Linked DNA regions of Homo sapiens. The protein of the gene in region 2 interacts with the protein of the main gene of each other region in a pairwise test. Each region holds a gene or a part of one and is shown on either strand. Other genes may lie near its edges.

What was found.
Region 1: the proteins of SEPTIN8 (region 2) and SPTBN1 interact in a two-hybrid assay, tested with the Homo sapiens proteins (one study listed by BioGRID).

What each region holds. Positions count from the first base shown.
Region 1 is NC_000002.12:54,459,327-54,466,326, reverse strand, and holds part of SPTBN1 (spectrin beta chain, non-erythrocytic 1), read right to left. Parts: intron 6,990-7,000; exon of another isoform or gene 6,919-6,989; intron 1-6,918. UniProt on the Homo sapiens protein: Fodrin, which seems to be involved in secretion, interacts with calmodulin in a calcium-dependent manner and is thus candidate for the calcium-dependent movement of the cytoskeleton at the membrane.
Region 2 is NC_000005.10:132,774,181-132,781,182, reverse strand, and holds the start of SEPTIN8 (septin-8), read left to right. Parts: upstream 1-3,943; 5' UTR 3,944-4,045; coding exon 4,046-4,075; intron 4,076-7,002. UniProt on the Homo sapiens protein: Filament-forming cytoskeletal GTPase. May play a role in platelet secretion. Seems to participate in the process of SNARE complex formation in synaptic vesicles.

The DNA of each region.
Region 1 (7,000 bases), on a different chromosome or scaffold from region 2:
ACTTTGAAAATACATACCTCAAAGGAATAAATTCTGTTGTACTTATATATCATCCTAAATTTCATACTAATTGATCTATTGGGTAAAAATCTATAGTTATGTTCTAATACATATTTTACTGCCTAACTAGTGGCTTCAAATTTGTATATTAAAAATCAGAACTAACAGGGCATTCTCGATTCTAGAGCAGAGATATTAAAATGGTTCTAAAAATCACTCAGATGTTTACTGTCACAGTTGAGAGTTTCTTAAGAATGGACGTATGACTCCTATAAACAAGGGTCAGTTTTAAAGCAATCTTGATAACATCTTATTTTTATATGTCAAAGCACAATTAATCCTGAAAGCTTCTTCAAACAACCACTCAGTTAAAGCTGATGGCAGAAAAAATACAAAATTAATGGAAATTCATTAATTTTTATAAGCTACATTTCACAAAGTACCAACACACTTAGAGACTTGGACCATAAAATAGAAAGTACTATTCCCTCCCAAACATTTCCTCCACTGGCTAAGGACAACTTGACTCATTCATGGGACTCCTTTTCAAAATACTGTCTCTATAAAATTCCCCATTTAAAATGTTTTAAAATATGTGCCTCCCTTCGTGGTAGAGATTACTCAATCAAACACACACCTCTCTCTCCCATGTGTGAGATATATATATATATATATATATATATATATGAGATAAACATGATATGTATGCATCATATATGTATATATACAAAAATATAACATTGCACAGGAATTTCTTTTCATACAAAAAACGAAGAATATTAAAATTAGTTCCTCTCAATCTTAGCCTACAATATTCCCAGATGCTGAGATACCATTCACTGAAAGTAAATCTAAATCTGAAGTGATTTTTATTTTAAAATGTTCACTTGGAATTTTACCTTCATTTCTGACCAATTCCACTGAAACCTGATGGTCTAATGGTTACAAACTAGCTCCAGTAGCAGTGTTTAGGTTTCCACGAGTGAGAACATGCACGTCATGGAATTCCACTGCTCTGCACTCAAGTGTGGAGACTGGAAATACCAAAGAACCCTGGTCCTCTGCTCTTTTCAAGCTGCCTAGGTTAGTGTAGAGAATTAATACATTTGAATACACTAATTTATCTCACACCTATACCCTTAAGATGCTAACTTACACACTGTATCATTGCTCTTAGAAAACTGCAAAGAAGGACAGATATAACAATCGCTGGATTTAAAACTATTTCTTAATAATGATCTACAATTGGACAGATTTACTTTTTTCTTTCCTTTTTAAAAATTAGAATTTTTAAAGTGTTGATTGCTTTTTTGATTATTAAAAAATGGTGCCCAAGGCTGGGCACGGTGGCTCACATTTGTAATCCCAACACTTTGGGAGGCCAAGGCAGGCAGATCACTTGAGTTCAGGAGTTGAAGACCAGCCTGGGCAACACGGTGAAACCTCGTCTCTATAAAAAAATTTAAGGTTTAAAAATTAGCCCTGTGTGGTGGTACACGCCTGCAACTACTTGGGAGGCTGAGGCAGGAGGACTGCTTGAACCCAGGAGGTCAAGGCTGCAGTGAGCCATGTTCGTGCCAATGCACTCCAGCCTGGGCAACAGAATAAGACTCTGTCTCAAACAAAACAAAAGAAAACAAAATAAAACAAAAAAAAGTTCCTCAAACAAACCAAAACAAATGGTCCTCATGGTCATCTATTATATTATTTACTGCATTCTTCTCTACCGTGAAATATTTCAAAACTCAAAAAGAGAAACATTAAGTCATGGGAATTTCCTTTCATACAAGAGAGGAAATCACCCATCAACCTACCATCCAAAGCAAACCATTAACATTTTAATGTATTTCCTTCCAGTCTTTTACTTAATACAGTAAAACCAGGATTATAGTACACTATACAATTTTGCATCCAGATATTTCCACTAACCCCTGTATTACCGGCATCTTCCCATCTCAGTAATATTCTTCCAAACCATTATTTTAAGCACTACATTGAATTCCACCCTACAGTTGCGCCATAATTTATTTGATTATGTTCCATTAAAAAACATTTCCCCTTTTCTCTATTAATGTTGCCAAGAAAATCCTTGTTTAAAAACTTGTCCTTATTTTTAATTGTTTTTGTAGGTTACCAAGCTACATGTGAGATTTCAGTTCAAGAGGTATAAGCATTTAAGGCTTCTGTTACATATATATAACCCAACTGTTTTCCCCTAAGTTTGTATTAATCAAAATATGCTCTCAACAGGTGATGCAGAGCTCCCATCTCACAGCAGCCCAGAGCATAATATCTATCCATTAAGTGGAAAAATTAATTAATTTAGTCTGTATTTCATACACTGGTGAGTTTGAACTTACAGTTATCGACCTCCTTGATTTCTTCTTTTATAAACTATCTGCTCATATCATTTCCTTAGCTACTAAGGCTTTAGCATTTTATTGTTTGTTTAAAAAATACATATATATAAATCAGATTTTCCTTTCCTATTATTTTGACATGATGTATAGGAACAGGTTTAATACAGATGGAACTTAGCATTATTTATCTAAATGATTGTTATTTGCTAGAATATACCTTTTCTAAACAAATCAAACTGTTTATTTGAAAGAAAGCATAATATTAAGTCAAACTAAGCAAAAATTCCACATTTTATAATCATTAAAATTTATTGTGATAAGCGCTGAATTACCTCATTTGGCTTTAATAATCCTATGTGGTAGATACTCTCATTACGACTATTTTACAGATGAAGATGTTGAGGGACACAAAGAAGTCTAGGCAGTTTGCCCAAGGTCACTTAGCGTGTGAGCGAGGTGGGTGGGTTGTGTAAAGAGCCTGAAGCCTGGGGCCCAGGGCCCCTCCATCCAAAGCCTCCCATCAGCCTCTCTAGCCATGACCTCTCTCCAGCTCCACTGAGGATTGTGCTGGAACCTCAAACTCAAACATGTTTAAAGCAAAACTGATACTCTTCCCAATCAAATATCCAATCATGCACTTGACTTGTCTATTTGTCATCATCACCAAACATGCTCATTGTCATTATTCAAATTTGAAATCTTTATCACCTTAGCTTAGCTCGTCACCCACTAGGTCCACCTCCCATCCATCCTGCCATCCATTTACCCTACAAATAGCTTCGCATAGGATTGGGCCTTCACAACCATTTTCCCATCTCTCCTCTCCTTGTTCCCTTGGCCACCACTGTAACTTGCTCCCTTTACTTCTGGACCCCCAGTCACCTCTCTCCTGTCTCCTTGCTTCTAGTTTCTTCCAGTCTCACTGTATTCTGAACACTGCCAAGGTGATGAGTTTCTCAAGTATCTTATAATCACAGAATTTAGAAGTGTACAGGAGCTTAAAAACTGAATGCCAGATTTAATCGAGTGGTAGTTACTGCCTAGAACACCATGTCGAGAATATGACTGAGACTATCTCAGCTCAGTGGAAAAAGAGTACCATTACTGATTTTCGATGTCTGCCAGGAACAGAAGCGAGTGATGGCATGTGCCATGTTTTAACCCCCACTATGATTTCATCTAAGTCTTCCATTTTATAAAATTAGATCTGAGACCGGAGGGTTAAAGGTTTGCCAAAGTCACACATCCAGCCTGTTAAAGGTATTTTACCTTCTGTGTATAGTACATAAAATATATTCCATATACTAGAGTATACAGTCCTTTCATTCAGGAACTAATTCTTATTCAACTTTAAGCCAGTCCACAAAACCATAACAACTTCAAGTCCTGGCAAGATAATGTATCCAATAATTATTCATTAAATAAAAAACAATATTACAAAGTAATCTCAGAGTAGCAGTAAAGGAAGATCATTAATACTATAAATGCTTAATGGTCAAAAGAACTGTGTACAAATAAATGTAATTACATTACTTTCAAGAACCAGAACCTAAACTGATAAGGGTTTCTAGTAAGTGGTCTCTTCAGACTGTATTAATCAATATATAAATGCCATTGGTAATGCAGCCTTTTAAAATACAAAAGTTAGAATAAGCCATTTAATAGCTCTCCTGACATAAAAAGGTTTAGGTAGTTTTTGCAAAGCATACCAAAAGGGATCAGTGGGTCATAGTGCTTAGGCAGTCCCAACAGAAAGGAAACAACTGTTATCAACTAAATACGTACTATGTGCCTGGAACTGTACACTGCTGTATCATAACTAAGAGAAACTAATATTATTTTGATTTTTCCAATGAGGAAACTGTGGTCTTGAGTAACTAACTAGCTCAAGGCCAGTACCTAGTGGTAGCCATAAGGCTAGTATACAACACCATTAGGATTTGGGCCCACAACCTGTTTGACTCCAAAACGAATGCTCTTTCCAAACAAAGAAAAACTTTTCTGAAATAAGAAAATTACCCTCACAAACTTTAAAGGACAAAATACTGATTATGACTCTGCTAAATTACAAATAACCGATCATCAAAAGAAATCACAAATTCGAGTTAAGAAAAAAAACACAAGCTGAGAAGTAATTGTCGCAAGACATGTAATCCACAAAGGATTAGTAGTAATCTACATACAGAACTACAAATTAATAAGATAAATGGGTAAAAGACTGAACAGGTACTTCACAAAACGAAGAACCCAAATGGTTAATAATGTAAACAGACATTCAAACTCAATAATCAGAGAAATTGTAAATAAAAATCACAGTGAGATAATGTTTCACTGGACAAGATTTTCAAGCCTGGTATGTGAAGCACTGGCAAGGCTTTGGAACTGTAACACTTATGGCTAGTGGGAACACGATCAACATAATCGCTTTGTAAAAAACAGTTCTACATTCTCTACTAAGGCTGATGATGCATATGCCCTGTGAGCCAGAAAATTTCATTCCCTAGAGACAGCAAATGGGTGTGTGTGCCTCCACATATGTACCAAGAGCCGTGTACAAAAACCACTCACAGCAACCCTTTCACAATAGCAAAAAAACCTGGAATCAATCCAAATCTCCATCTAGAGTACAATGAATAAATAAATCACGTTAGAATACTATACAGCAGGTGAAACTGAATGAAATACAGCCATGAAATGGATAAACCTTGGGAATAGAATCTTAATCTAAATATGTGAGTCAGAAGAATACATAAAGTATAATTTTGTTGATATAAAGTTCAAAATCATACACAATCAAGATTTTTTAAAAAGGATAAACCATAGAGAAGGGAATGATATGCACAAAATCAAGGATATGGGTTGTTTCAGATGGGATGATGGAGGTGGGCTCTGAATGTATAAGGCTCTTCCTGAACTAGCCGGTGGCTGCCTGAGTGTCCCTTGGTTTATGATTTTTATTTTTTTGAGACAGAGTCTCGCTCTTGTCACCCAGGTTGGAATGCAGTGGCGCGATCTCGGCTCACTGCAACCTCTGCCTCCCCAGTTCAACTGATTCTGTTGCCTCAGCCTCCCGAGTAGCTGGGAATTACAGATGCCTGCCACCATGCCCAGATAATTTTTGTATTTTTAGTAGAGATGGGGTTTCACCATGTTGGCCAGGCTGGTCTTGAACTCCTGACCTCAAGTGATCCGCCCCCACTCGGCATCCCAAAGTGCTGGGATTACAGGCGTGAGCCACTGCACCCAGCTGGTTTACGATTCTTTAACATATATTTTAGGAACATTATTTTGTACCTACCAATTAGTTGATTCAAAAAAGAACTCTAAGAAAAGACTGGACGAGAGGGCAGGACATTGACTATATCAGATGACAGACATCAAGATGCCAGAGCAGAGGGAGCAGAGAGGACCCTTTGCTCAGGGGTTAGCTTCCGAGGCTCCAGCTCTGATGTCTCAAAACCAATGCCTTTTTCTTCCAGAGGGGAAAAAGACTGTTTTTCAACTTTAGAGGTGTTTTACAAAACAACCTAAAACACTGATTAATCTAAATAAACCATGGTATATAGGACTCTTCCACCAAGAATTAAAGAACAGCTTTATAAAATAATTTTGTATTAAACAAATAATTTACAGTGAGAGCCTCACTTTTGTCACCACCATCAAGGAAAAAAATGTGCTGATACTTCAGCAAAAGAAAGGAAAATTCAAGAAGGAAACTTTTGATATTGAGGTCCCTTTGCTGAAGGAACAGAATAGAGTTTCTTCATTTAATGTGCATACAACTCACTTAAAGGTCTTGTTAAAATGTTGATTCCGATTGGCTGAGTTCAGAGTGGGGCCTAAGAATCTGCATTTGCAACAAGCTTCCAGGCGATTCTAATGTTGAAGGTCCGTGAACCTCACTATGATAGCAAAGGACATTATGAAAATGCCTTCTCCAGAGATGTTTAAAAATAGAAACACAGGTATATCTAATTGGTGTAATTTCCTTTAACCACTGAGTAGAAAAAAATAGATGATGTTATTCCCACACAATAAAAATTTAAATATAATTACAAGTGCTACCGGAAAAATCAGAGTACTAAACTAGGTCTTTTGCAAAGAAAAGATGCCCTGAGAAAAAGCAAAGACTGAAAATTTACAAGAAAAACCCATGAGATGCTTTACTCACTTCCACAGACCTACAAAGTTCACTCTTCTAACAGGGGTAGTTAGCCCCTTCCTTCTGGAAGAATGGTTTGCATTTCCAATAATGTAGTGAAAGAAACTACGGCTGCCATTAAATAAAGCCCAATTATAATGAAGATACTAGTTACGATGCAACATAATTAAAGGAGCATCATGTCATTGCACGTAAAAAAAATTAGGCTTTAAAATGTTCTATAAGAATATGCTATTAAAAAGAAAAGCTTAAAATTATTTCGACAAAATCCACACTGAATGATTTCCACTAATCATGTCTATGTTAGCAGTAGTAAAATCCTTCCACGTCAAAATAGTACTTCCACATGTAAAGTCATACATTCAAACATCAAGACAAAGCAACCACTCTACAAACCCTTCCAGGAAACTCTGCCAATGCCAAGCCTCTGCTCAGGATGTGTCACAAGTAGAGGGAGGTCTTCTCATTTGCTCTGCAA
Region 2 (7,002 bases):
GTTAAACATCGAAAATACTTCCTGGAAAAACAGCTTAACGATTAATTTAGTCCATGAAGAGATGAACAAAAATAAAGAACTTGCAAATGGAAAAAAAAGCCTTGGTAAGAAGACTAACGATGACCATTGAATTCATTTTAATTCAGAATATTTATCAACTAACTATGAAGTTATGTTTACAAAACAGAATATGAGTGTTATAAACATGGATAATGTAACAATAATATGTAACTAAACTTAGGAAGCAGGTCAGTCAGAGATGGAAAGAATCATGAGAGCGAATTTTTCAAAGCAATGAACACACTGAACACACATACACACACACACACTCATATGTCACTGAAATGTGCATTTTAAGAAAATAACTCTAACCTCAGTGTTTTTTACAATTTTTGTTTAACCTCAGAGGTATCTTTTAGGAAGTAATATCTCTTGTGGTCAAGAAACATTCTTTGAAGTTCAACTCTTTCTTCAGTTTCAACTTCTTTGTCTTCTTTTAAATTCAAGTAAAATTAAGTACTTTTAATTTAAATAGCATCTGTATTATGGCCCAGATTCCTATAAAGTATCTCTATTATCTTTCCTCCTATCAGTAAATATACATAGAAAGTTTTCTGGAATGATATAAATGTAGTGTTCATGATGGTGATTTCTGAGTGGTGGGATTGGGATAATTTAATATTCTCTGTATTCAAATTATTTAAAATGTACATATATCACTTAAAAACATGAAATTTTTCTTTAAAAGGGGTGGAAGGCTAAGAAATTATCTGTGGCTGATTCTGTTGGTGTATGGCTGATTATTTTCTTGCTTGTCATTTTTTATATTTTAATTTTCTAATAAACAAAAATTTCATAGTATTAGAAAAAAAGATTTTCAGGCATCTCACTGGAACGGATAGTCCAGAAACAGACTTGGCAGAGATGGCTGCAGCCTCCCAACATCTGCTCTCCTCTAACATTTTATGGACTTTTTAGCTGTGCACATGATAGCCAGAATAAAGACCCCATTTTCCAGCTCTGGCCAATAGCATGTAAGCAGAAGTGCCACATGGCAGCTTCTGGAATCCTCTGAGAGTTGGCTCATTTGCACTGTATTACTATCATTGCCTCTTGCTGCCTGGAATGCAGATATCACCATATTGGACCATGAGAGCAAGACCACGTAAGGCCAAGCAACAAGAAGAAAGTGTGCGTAGAGAGTCACATAAGCCCTGGACTACCTACCTGGACAATGTAAGAAAGGAAGACATTTCTATCTTGTTGAAGCAGCTGAACATAATCCTAACTGATGCACAACCTGCACACACATACAGAAATGTCGTCTGTGATACCATTTGCATTGTACATCAGAGGGGAAAGATGAAACAACTGGTTTGGCATACACATACACAAATTGCCTAGATGTGAAGGAGTTAAAAAAAAGTTTTTAAAGAAAATTTATTCTTTTCTCACAAACACAATATCTTTGTGAAGTTAGGGAAGGGTCTTTATTTTTAGAAGCCAAAGTAAAAATAATAAATAAAATAACAAGTACACTTGACAACATCAAAAATTTAAACTTCTACATGACAAAAGAAAGTATAAACAAAAGTAAAAGACAAGCAAGAGGCCTGGAGGGCAGCATTTCCTGAAGCGAAGTCTTGTCATGTTCAAGTTCAGTGTGGTGCTGGGTATGTATGCAGGGTAGAGACAAGGGGCAACAAAGTGTGGGTAGAGCTGTATATTCCCCTTTCTTTTGCACAGAAAATGCATATTAGCTGATCAAAAGCTGAGGACTTCTACAGAACCCTGTCTGTGTATGGAACTCAGCATTCCCCAGTTATTTGACGGTGAGACCAATCTTTTTGTGGTAAAATCTATGAACTAACCTCTAGGTGTATACGAAACACTCAGAAATGCTGCCATAAGAAATAACACTTTGCCATGTGAGAAATGATCGTTATATTCACCTTTTGAGCCCTCATAGATAATTCTCACTCTTTTATAAGTTCTGACCAGCAGCAGCATAAAATGAGAGAAATTTCGGCATTGTGGAATAGGAGGAAATTCTCCTGTTTACTCCTACAGAGCAGAGTGAATATATCCCAAAAGAAGGAAGTCACCTGTACTCTGAGCTTTTCCTTCTCATAGCCACTGGCCAGGACTGTAAGAAGTACATGTTTTGAAATATTTCCGATTAGAGATAAAAGACCATTTTGAAGATAATTTAGGGCTAGTCCCAGAGAGTTGTAATGCAGAACTGCCATACGGATGGCAGTTGGTCGTGATTTCTTGTTAGTTATAGGGAAAGAAAAAGGAAACAGTAGATACAGTCTAGGATGATCAATTCAGTATTGACCACACATTCTCTGGGCTCTGAGATTAAGGCCCTTGTAGTCTAGAGAGGGAGATTTTATTTAATATTATATTTTAAGTACAACTTAAAGCCCTTTACTTATGTTATTTAATCCTGTAACATAGGTGCTATACTTGTTCTCATTTTTAGGACCAGGGAAGGGAGGCATAGTTAAGTAACTTGCCTAGCTAAGGTTAAAAAGCTAGCAGGATTCCACCAGGAAGGTTTGCCATAGATCCAGCTACCCTAACCACTGCTCTGCTCTATTTCTTGTAGATAACTTTAATACAGCATGGGAAACAGCAACATAGAGAGAGGAGCAAAGTGAAAACATTGTCAGGAAGGTCCAGCGGGAAGTCAGTCCACCTTGGGGACAAGCTACAGTTTGCCTGGGAGAGTGAGGAGGGGAAAGCCAAATCAGGGTGACAAGGTCAAACAGCAGAGAGGGGGCTCCTCTTAAGCCAGGTGTGCTAAGTCGAACGTGGTCTTTAGGCACCTCCAGTCAGCACAAGTTTCTGAGTAGGAGAAACAGGTCAGGTTGCTTCTCAGCATACTGGGGTGAGGGGTGTGTGTGGAGGGTGGACCAACCTGGGATGAGGCCAGTGGGGGGTAGGGGGCAAACCTTGCCACATTCCCAGAAAGAGCAGAGAGAAAGGCAGAGGGAAGAGAAAGAAACGGGGTTTCAGAGGATTTGGGAGCTGCTTTTGTATAGATTGTCAGTGAGAAGGATACAGAACCTCCTGAGGCCTCCGACCCTGGCGTAAGTGTTAATTTTCTGAACGTTTTGAGCAGTGACATTAGCGGAGAGAACGTGCACGCACTGGGAGTGGTCATCCTCTTTGCACAATGGTGGAACCATTAAGACGTTGTCCCAAGCCCTTGGGACAGGCAGGGTGATGGACACTTGCAATCTGACGCCTTGACCGTCGAGCTCCGCTTTTCTATTGCAGGAATCCCAGCCTAAACTGCGCATCCTGCTCGTTGGTTGCACAAGGAGCCGAAGGCTGGTCCCTTGCCCGGGAAGGCCGCCTGGCCGGACGCGCGGGTCCCGCCGGGGTTCCCGCCTTAGCTCCGGCCGGAGCATCAGGTGGGGCCCAAGACACCCGCAGACTAGGCTGCCGCGGCCTCTCCCGGATCCGACGGGTCTCCCGCAGCTTGTCCACACTCTGGTTGGTGGTCCCAGCACATTTGCAGGCTCCAGCGGGTGGAGACGGCTTGGTGGGGGAGATCTCTAGGGCGCACGCCGTGCCCCACTTCCCCCTTACGGGAAAGGCTTTCCAGCGCGCGGACCCAGGAGACTCTCACCTAGGCTCGGCCCCAGGCTCCAGGGGACACGCAGAGGCCCGCCGGGCACCAGCCCCGAGCCCCCCGACACTGCCGTCCCGGTCCCCCAACGCGCGGACTACAAGTCCCAGCAGTCCCCGCAGCTGGCACCTCCCGCCTCGCCGCGGAGACCCCCGGCCGTCCAAGCGGCGGGGCTCCGGCTGCGCTCGTGGCCGGGCCGGGCGGGGAGGCCGGTCCCGCGGGCGGGGGCAGGGGCGGCTCCGCGGCTTCTCCCGCCGCCGCCGCCAAGGGGAGTTTCCAGGAAGTGGCCATATTGGATCCATTCAGCCGCAGCCGCCCGGGCGGAGCGCGTCCCGCAGCCGGCTGGTCCCTGTCGCTGCCCCTGCGCTCGTCCCAGCCCACCCGCCCGGTGCGGAGCTCGCCATGGCGGCCACCGACCTGGAGCGCTTCTCGGTGAGGGCCCCGCTGGGCCACGGCGCGCGCGGGAGGCGCGGGGCGCAGGAGGGGCCGCCCTGCAGCTGGCGGGGGGCGCGAAGCGGGCTGTCAGCGCCTCACGGCCGGGCCTCGACACCGGGCCAGCTCGAGGACCCCGGCGCGGGCTCTCGGCCGCGCTATCGGGGGGTCCCGGAGCGTCGGGCGGCCTGCCTTGCCGGGCGGCTGGTCGGGGTCGCTTCCTGGGGCGCAGGCAAGGCTAACCCCTTTCGCGGGAAGGAGCAAAGACCCGCCTGGCTCCGGGCAGGTGCGAAGATAGAGTGGCGCCCGCGGGGCCGCAGGTGAGGGTCCGGGACACTCCGGACCCTATCGCCCAGGGTGTTTCTTTCTGCACACTTGGGGAAGAGTCCTAGCCGCACAGGTGCTGCGGGATAGGTACAGCCGGGGAGGATGGAGGCCCCAGGATCCGAGAGAGTCTCCCACACGAGCCCAGGACAGTTGCAGACTTGAGTCCTGAAGACCCTTGGCCTGCTTTTCCTTCCTCCCCCGCTCCCCTCTGCCCCGCTCCCCACGCCGGAATCCTGGGTGCGACTCCAGGCAGGTCAGGCCTCAGTGGTCGGGTCTGCGGCAGCCATTCGCCAGGAGCTGGAGGGATTCCAGACTCAGCCCAGTGGGCGTTTATTTGGGCTCCAGTCCAGGTCCTCAGAAGGTTGATGTCCCTGGTGGTCCCTGCAGGGGTCTCACTGGGCCTGAGCCTGCCGACAGCCAACTTACTAAAGGCTTTCATAATTCACTCGCGGGAGGGAGGCCTTTGGGGGGTTGTATCTGGACATCCCCTGCTGTCTAAGGCTGGATCTGGGTGTGTCTGGGAGGCTAGGCTGTGACAGTGAAGGAAGCTGTGTCCTCTTGCCAGCATGTAAGGCCCTGGTCGGCTGGAAGGGGGAGGAGGGGGAGAAGGAGGAGGAGGAGGAGGGAGGCCCAGGGCTGTTGGAGGGAAGGGGGAATTCTGAATATGTGAACGATAACGAATTGGTTCTGGGGCTAAATAAGGGAGCCAGGACTTATGTAATTAATGCTATAAATACCGTCATCCCAATTTATATATGTAAATTTTCCATTTAATCTGAAAATACATTTCTTATTCTACTTTGGAAATGTGCATGACTAAAGCAGGAGCTCTTGGTTTCATAATTTCTAGACTCGGGTGTTTTATTCCCATTGGAGAGGGGGTCGTATGTCAGTTAAGTAAGTTTAAATACATGAGGAACAGATTCAGAGGCTGGGCTACTCAGAGATTCACTTCGCCCCGTATTATAAATTGGAATTTATGTACCGGAGGAGGGCAGTGCCTGAATCCTAACAGACCTGCTGATTAGCTGGAGGCCAAGAGACCCGTGAGTGCCTGGGTGTCTCTGCATGTGTGTCTGTGTGCATTTTCTGTGCCCAGCTGACCAGAAAGTTATGTCTGGGTCTTGTCTGTGGCCAGAGGTTTAACAGTTGATGTTGCAGGTGGGAGAGGTATGTAGAGAAACCAGAATCAGACAGCCTGATAGGAATCCTAGACACTCCTTGTTGGCCATGTGACCTTGGGCAGGTTATTTAACCCCTTGGTGCTCTCATGCGTATAATGGGATAGAAATATTTCTTCCCTCATAGGGGTATTGTGAGGATTCAACAAGAGAATCCAGGGGAGGTACTTAGCCCTGTGTCTGGCACATGGTAAGGACACAATAAATAATATATGCTACCTATTGTCCACGTGGATGTGAGGACTGGCCCCCTATGTAAGAAGGGAGCAGAGGATGCATTTGCCCTGTTCATGGCACTCTCTGTAGAGCTTCCATCCCTGCTCGTCCAGAGATGGTCCTCAGAGGGTTAGCTGAGAGGCCATGCTGTGGGCTGGTCAAGCCTTCCCCTGGGGTCCTGTGTTTGCTCTCGGACCATTCCTGTGAGGAGTTTTGGTATTAGCTGCGGGGTGGCCAGGGCACAGAGAGGGGACTGACTCAGGCAAGGGCGTAGAGCCTGAGCGCAGGGCCTTGGTTGCTATGCCAGCTTCAGCTGGAGGGATGGACACCTTCCACACCCTCTGCACTTTGGGCTGTCAGCCTCCTGGAAGGGCTTGGATAGGGTTGGATTTGGGTGGAGACCTTGGGTGGAGTTTGGCCTGAATTTAAGTCTGGACTCCATTCACCCTTCCTGGCTTGTCATCTTGGGAAAATCATTTCTGCCTTTATCTTGCTGTAAAATGGGCAGAGCCACACTGGTTCCTCAGAGAGTTTATGGAGGGTTAATTGCAGTCCGTGGCATGTTTGGAAATATGCTGAGGTGTCTCGCAAGCCCCAGGATGTGATGGAGCCATGACAGGTCTACACTGTCCCTCTGGCCAGCTCAGTGGTCAGTCTAGCCCTGCAGGCCTGAGAATTGTCCTGACCTGGAGCTTAGACGGCATACAGAGTTGTACTTTGAGATGGATGTGTGCTGGGTTCCTGTGTCCTCACATAGCATGGTGTACACACCACAGGCCAACAGCCTTGGCATCCTGACTGGGCTCTGCTCCACCCTAGATCAGTATTGGGGTAAGGGTTGGCATCCCCTGTGTGTGGGTGTGTGGAGCAGCCCTCTGAGGAGGGTGTGTTGCCTCTTGCCTTCCTCGGGCAGCCAGATTCCTGTCCACTCTTGCTGTGCCCCTCCTCCTAACTGGAACCTTGACTCTGGGGCTCAGCCCTTTCTTCCCCGAGGGCCAGCTCCGGTGTTTTCTCCTGCCAGAATCTCACAGGTTCAGACCCCGTGGTGAGCAACCCTTTAGGGCTTGGGGAAAGTGAAGCTGAGGGGGAGAGGAAGAAACGTGCAGCACACAGCCTCACACTGGCGTTCTTCCCAGCCAGTCACTTACCCCCATCTCTGCTTTATCCCCAGCACCATCTGTCACTTCCGTTGTCACCCCTGCA